Linked DNA regions of Homo sapiens. The protein of the gene in region 2 purifies or fractionates together with the protein of the main gene of each other region. This does not show direct contact. Each region holds a gene or a part of one and is shown on either strand. Other genes may lie near its edges.

Evidence for each region. The genes of interacting proteins can lie anywhere in the genome.
Region 1: the proteins of RRBP1 (region 2) and DSTN purify together in Homo sapiens (affinity purification with mass spectrometry, with the first as the bait; one large-scale study listed by BioGRID). This does not show direct contact.

What each region holds. Positions count from the first base shown.
Region 1 is NC_000020.11:17,576,575-17,580,074, reverse strand, and holds part of DSTN (destrin), read right to left. Parts: intron 1-3,500. UniProt on the Homo sapiens protein: Actin-depolymerizing protein. Severs actin filaments (F-actin) and binds to actin monomers (G-actin). Acts in a pH-independent manner.
Region 2 is NC_000020.11:17,672,243-17,675,742, forward strand, and holds part of RRBP1 (ribosome-binding protein 1), read right to left. Parts: intron 1-3,500. UniProt on the Homo sapiens protein: Acts as a ribosome receptor and mediates interaction between the ribosome and the endoplasmic reticulum membrane.

The DNA.
Region 1 (3,500 bases), 96 kb from region 2:
CACTCCTCCAACTCTTTTCATTTGCTCTACAACTACTGAGGCACACACTGGTGTCATCAGAATATAAAGATGAATACAGGATATAAAGATGAACAAAACTTTGAACTATTCTAAAGATATATCCAGTTGGGTAGAGATAACAGATATAAGAAAGAATCCTATATATGATTAATGCTGCACCAGCAGCAAGCTCTCCATGCATTGACAGCCCAGGAAATGAGTGATTCTGTATGAGACATGATGACAAAAGGGAGGTGTCATGTCAGGCAGGTCTTCCTAGAGCTGGCCCTTGAAGGATAAACTGCCTTTTGATTAGTCAGGCAGGAATCCCTTTTTAATGAGTTAAATAAATGATTCTGGCTTCTTCCACTTGGATAGCAAGTAATAACAAAAGACTATTTACCTAATTAGATCTAAGCTTGCCACCATTTATTTTAGCTAACACTGATAAACTGATAAGCACTTTACTACCTGCCACTGCTTTTTTTGGGGGGATCAGGGTCTTGCTCTGTCGTCCAGGCTGAGGTGCAGTGGTGCAACCTTGGTTCACTGCAGCCTGAAGCTCCTGGGCTCAAGCAATCCTCTCACCTCAGCCTCCCAAGTAGCTGGGACCACAGGCATGCGCTGCCACACCTAGCTTTCCTTTTTTTTTTGGTATTTTATGTAGAGACTGGGTTTTGTCATGTTGCTCAGGCCGGTCTCGAACTCGTAAGCTCAAGCGATCTGCCTGCTTTGGCCTCCCAATGTGCTAGGATTACAGGCATGAGCCTCCACACCTGGCCTGTGCCACTGCTTTAAACTAGTTACATGCATCATTCATACTGTTGTGGTGGTAGGTACTATTATTATTCCCACTTGGAAGAATGGTGAAATTGAGGCACAGAATGTGTCAGGAACTTACCAAAGGTCATACAGTTAGTGCAAGTGGCAGAGTCAAGATTTAAAAAAACCCAGCAGCCAGACACTGAGCACATGCTTTTAATGTGGCAGTACAGTTTAACACAAATAATATCTATCTCAATGAACTGCTATAAGGGTTGAATGAGATAAGGTAAATACTTATAAGTTAATGTAAGACAGCATTACTTCTTGCTTTTTTTTTTTTTTTTTTTTGAGATGGAATTTCGCTCTTGTTGTCCAGGCTGGAGTGCAATGGTGGGATCTTGGCTCACTGCCACCTGCACCTCCCAAGTCCAAGTGATTCTCCTGCCTCAGCCTCCCAAGTAGCTGGGATTACAGGCATGAGCCACCACACCCGGCTAATTTTGTATTTTTAGCAGAGGAGGGGGTTTCAGCACATTGGTCAGGCTGGTTTCGAACTCCCGACCTCAAGCGACCCACCCACCTTGGCCTCCCGAAGTGCTGGGATAACAGGCGTGAGCCACCACGCCCGGCCACTTCTTGCTCTTTCATTTGTTAGGCTTTTGAGCGCTTTTCTATGGTTCAGGATGCCTCAATGAGCATGAAATTCCACGGTTTCATTTTTAAGGAAAGAAAGGAAACTGGCATTTATTGAGGACTTTCAATATGCCACAATCACTTTAAAGGTATTACTCTAATAACTGCCTTAACTATCTTGAAGGATTTTTACTTGTAAGACTCAAAGTAAATTATCATGCAGTATACAAAGGGGAGGTACTATTCAATTAATTCAATACTTAAAACCCAATTTCCATTACATTAAAAAAGGTATGTGGGAATAGAAGGTATAAAAATTAAAGGACTCCACCTCCATGGGAACCTGTCCTTTGTCATAATTAAGAATACCCTCTCCCATTCACTCATTCATGTTCATTCAGTAACATCTATGTGGGCCTACTATGAGAGTGGTATCTTGCTACTGGAATGTACGATCCCCATCTTAAAAGAGCTCAATAGTCTAGTTTCATAAAACATCTTAAGTCCTATAAAGAAATTCATATGCTATCTCAGCATCGTTTCTTGGACATGTGCAGAAATGCAGAGAATTTAGTTGGTACACACACCAACTTCCCATTACAAATTAAGTAGGCCAACTCACAAAGTCTTAGGTTGGTCCAATAAAGTGGCCACTAGCCACATGTGACTTAACGAGTCCTTTAAATGTGGCTAGTGTGACTGAGGAACTGTATTTTCATTTAATTTTAATTAACTTAAATTCTAAAAATTTATTCTTATCCATTACTGGAAAACTTGTAAGTAGGTCTGGAGCAACTTGAGTATATGAATCTACTTTTTCAAATGTAAATTTTATCATATCTAAATACAGATCAAGTATTTCCAATGAAAATTTAGCACCTGAATTGACACGTGCTTTCAGTGTAAAATATATACTGGATTTCAAACAATTTATATGTAAAATTTCTCAATTTTTAAAAATATTACTAGAAAAGTTAAAAGTATATTAAAATATTACTAGAAAAGTTAAAAGTATATACATAGCTTGTATTTTCTTTCCATTTGACAACACTGGCCTAAAGATGAAATATTCTTATAACTAGAGTATTCCTCTAAAGATTTTTTTTTTTTGAGACAGGGTCTTGCTTTGTTGCCCAGGCTGGAGTGCAGTGGCGTGATCTCGGTTCACCACAACCTCCGCCTCCCAGGTTCAAGCAATTCTCCCGCCTCAACCTCTCAAGTAGCTGGGACTACATGCACCTGCCACCATGCCTGGCTAATTTTGTATTTTTAGTAGAGATGGGGTTTCTCCATGTTGGTCAGGCTGCAGATTCTTACAATGATTTGAGAATTCCTCAAAACTCCTGAGCTTCAACAACTGACTTCAAAGATTGCTCCAGGGCAAGTTGGAGAAGCCTTACCTGTATTTGCCTGTGCTGTGCTTTAGTGTTAGTTCTATTACTACAGGTTAAGTACCTTCCGGTACCAAGCATTTGATTTCAGATATTTTCAAATTTTGGAATATTTGCATATACATAATGAGATAGCTTGGGAATAGGACCCAAGTCCAAACACAAAATTCATTTGTGTTTCATATACACTTTATACCCATAGCCTGAAAATTATTTTATATGATATTTTAAATAATTCTATGTGTGAAAGTTTTGTCTGCATTTTGACTTGTCGCATGAGGTGAGATGTAGAATTTTCCATATGTTGGTGTTCAAAAAGTTTGGGATTTTAGAGAATTTTGGATTTTTAGATTAGGGATGCTCCACCTGTACATGAAAATAGCAACAGAAAAGTTGTGAAACCATTTTAAAATAAACACTAATTACATTTACAAGCTATTTTCTGAAAGCAAGCCAAGATAGAAACAAGGGTAGGAAATTCATCCTTGCTTTCCTGTGAGAAGGCAAACAGAAATAACAACCTATGAAGTAATGTAAAAATGTTCAAAGGAGTAAACAATCTTCCTTTGATGTGATCCAAAAGCACAAACACAATGACAAATGACCTTCCAGGTGTAGAATGAACTTAAGTTTCTATCTTTCAAGCACTCATCTATGCCGTGCTGCAACAGACGTTCTCAGTCTTTTCACACCTTCAATTAGAGATTACTT
Region 2 (3,500 bases):
AAGAATTCAATCTCAAGATATGAGCTTCGTTGAATTCCCTTCCATTAACTCCTTGGAGAAGAGCTGCATTTCCACTCAGGTTTATATTAGGAAATATCACCTGCTCATCAGCAATAAAATCTGACCCTCACAAGCCCTTTTCCCAAGGCCCACCTTTGATTAACGAATTCTGCCAGCCTAACATCCTCTCTCTGTGACAGCGGAGAACTTCAGCCTGAGTGAGTCATTTCTTATTTATTATCAACGGTAACTCAAAATTCATTTTGGTTCCCTTTTAGAATCAGCCACTTTATAATATATTCCAAGGTCTCATTCATATACTGTTGGTGGGAGTATAAATTAGAACAAGCACTTCAGACAAAAAGTCTGGCACTTTCTTTTAAAGCCGAGCACCTACCTCCTTCTGGTCCTGCAATTCTACTCCTAGGTATACAGACCCAATGGAAATGTGTATAGACATTCACCAAAAGTCTGCGGCATTAATAGCCCCAAACTGGAAACTCTCCAAGTACCCACCTACAGTAATGTGAATAAACTCATATATTCACATGCTGGAATAGTGAGAATGAACAAACTACAATTACCCCAACAACCTGACAAGTCTTACACGTAACGTTGAGTGAAAGACACAAAAGAGCATATGCCGTTTGAGTCCATTTACATCAAGTTCAAACACAAGCAAAATCAATCACTGGTATTATTAAGAAGAGAGCAGGTATTCCCTGCCCACGATGGGCAGCAGCTGGAAGAGGGGCACAGAAGGAGGTTGGGGAGGTCAGGAATAATCTATTTCTTGATCTGCTGGTTAAACAGGCATGTTTAGCTTGTGGATACTTATTGCGTAGACTCGTGATAGTGCATTTTTCTGTATATATTTTACTTTAATAAAGAGTTTAAAATGTGTGTCATATTTCCTTGGAAAACGCGCCCCACAGATCCTGGAGGAGGAGCATCTTTAAGGCCTGAAGAATCTGTTATGGAGCCCTGTTACTACTGCCACTTCCCAGTGCTCACACCCACACAGGATCGCTCCCTTCACAGACAGGAAGTAACTGAGGCCAGGGTCAAGGCAGGCAGTCACCTCCTGACCTGACAGGGCAGTGACTCAGTGGGACCCACAGCCCTTTATAGTCCTGTGGCCATGCCACCTTGCTGTCCTGAAGTCTTTCTTTTTTCTTTTTTTTGTGATGGAGTCTCACTTTGTCGCCCAGGCTGGAGTGCAGTGGTACGATCCCGGCTCACTGCAACCTCCGCCTCCCGGGTTCAATTGATTCTCCTGCCTCAGCCTCCCAAGTAGCTGCGATTACAGGCATGTGCCACCATGTCCAGCTAGTTTTTGTATTTTTAGTAGAGACAGGGTTTCACCATGTTGGCCAGGCTGGTCTCGACCTCCTGACCTCAGGTGATCTGCCCGCCTTAGCCTCCCAAAGTGCTGGGACTACAGGCTGAGCCACCATGCCCGGCCCACCTGCAGTCTTTTTAAAATCAAACTGTACAGAATAAGTCTCCAGATCTTCCAACTTAAGAGGGATATGACTTAAGATGGAAAAGACTAACTTAGCTTCAGAGCAGTGGCTAAAGTTGACCTTTTAAGAGTCCTTTGACACATTACCAATAAGACTTTTTTCATTAAGAGTCTCAATAATTCATTTATTCTTCAGCATTGACTCCTTCCTCCCCTCAATCACTGTGATTACTATTCTGAAAATTAAGACTTTCCTTTCTAATTACTACAAATACCTAGAACTACCAAGGAAATAAAAATGTATTCATAAAACTAAAGCTACATCTAATTCCTATTCAGGATCAGACTTAATTAAAAACCAATTTAATGCAGTTGAGTTGCACACTTTAATCACTGAATGAGAACTTCAAAAAAACACACCACCTGGGTTTGAACAAGGGTCTTTCACCTTTCCAAGTAAAATGAGTAGGTCAGACATTCCCGTTAGAAAGGGCTAGAAATCTAGTATCTACTCTTCTTCACCTAAAATCAACAGGAGAGAAGAGGAGAAACAAAGGATGGGGCTGGACGTAGTATTGCCTCTTCCCAACCAGACCACCCTGCCTCAGCCATTGCTCCTCCTACTTAGTGGACTGCCACACAAAATTCCTCTGAGAAAAGAACATCACCATGAGGTGAGGCAGGAGAGGAACCTTGACCCCTCCCTCACTTCCTAGCACGATGAGGACTGACCAAGAGAAAACAAAATGTAATGCCAACTATAAGAATTCTCCCGGCCAGGCTCGGTGGCTCAAGCCTGTAATCCCAGCACTTTGGGAGGCCGAGGCAGGTGGATCACGAGGTCAGGAGATCGAGACCATCCTGGCTAACATGGTGAAACCCCGTCTCTACTAAAAAAAATACAAAAAAATAGCTGGGCTTGGTGGTGGGCGCCTGTAGTCCAGCAGGAGGGTGAGGCAGGAGAATGGCATGAACCTGAGGGCAGAGCTTGCAGTGAGCTGAGATGCACCACTGCACTCCAGCCTGGGAGACAGAGCGAGACTCCCTCTCAAAAAAAAAGAATTCTCCCTTCTCCCCCTAAGGAACATTCTTGCCCACTAAACACAAAATCTACCTCTTTTCAGAGCAGCCAGCACACTGTTCACACCCAAAACAAATGTTCTGTTTCCTGGTGAGTGTGTCGTCACTGAAATGCTCAGTGACTCTGCAAGGCCCACCTCACACTCATTGGTTATACAAGGAATTAAAGGATGCTCACAGCCAAGTCTCCTCCCCAGAACTGGTGCAAGCACCTGGGAAGGGCCCAGTTCTGTCAAGGTGCCATGCATGATGGACTCCCAGAGACACTGGGATGAATCTAACCAGGCTGGAGACTGAGGGCTCCCAGGAGAGAGCCAACATCCACATCGTCTCCTAAGGTTCACTTCAAACCCCAGCCTCCGCTGGAAGGGCAGGATGTCCACATTTAACAGTGCCCTCTGCATGTGACTGTCAATTTCTCAACTGGAGGCAGGCTGGAGGTAATCCAAACTTCACTTGCATTTGGCTCTGGAATATGTTTTTGTGTTTATATGTGATGCTCTAGGAATCCAGACTCCTTCAGGCTACATGATATACTCGCAGAACGCCAGTGCTACAAAATCATCTCCATTAGCTCAGCAAGAATGGGCACCTATTGCATGCTAGTCACTGCCCTCGACACTGGATATACCTCAGGAAACAAAAGCTACATCCCTGCACTGGTAGAGCTTACGCTTCAGAGGGGGAGATGACAAAGTCAGTCAAATACGGGACATGTCAGGGGGTGATGAAGAGAAAGTGATGCAGAGAAGGGGGGCAGGGAGTGGGGGTGGGAGAGCGTCAGAGGCTGACACTCCACACAGGGTAGCCAACAGGCCTGAAGGAGATGAGGGAGCCAGCCATGTGCCATCTAAGGAAAAGCTCTTAGGGATATGCCAAAGTAGACGCAAAGGCCCGGAGGCAGAAGCATGCCTGAGGAACAGAGGCCACCGTGGCTGCAGCAGAGGACAGGGAG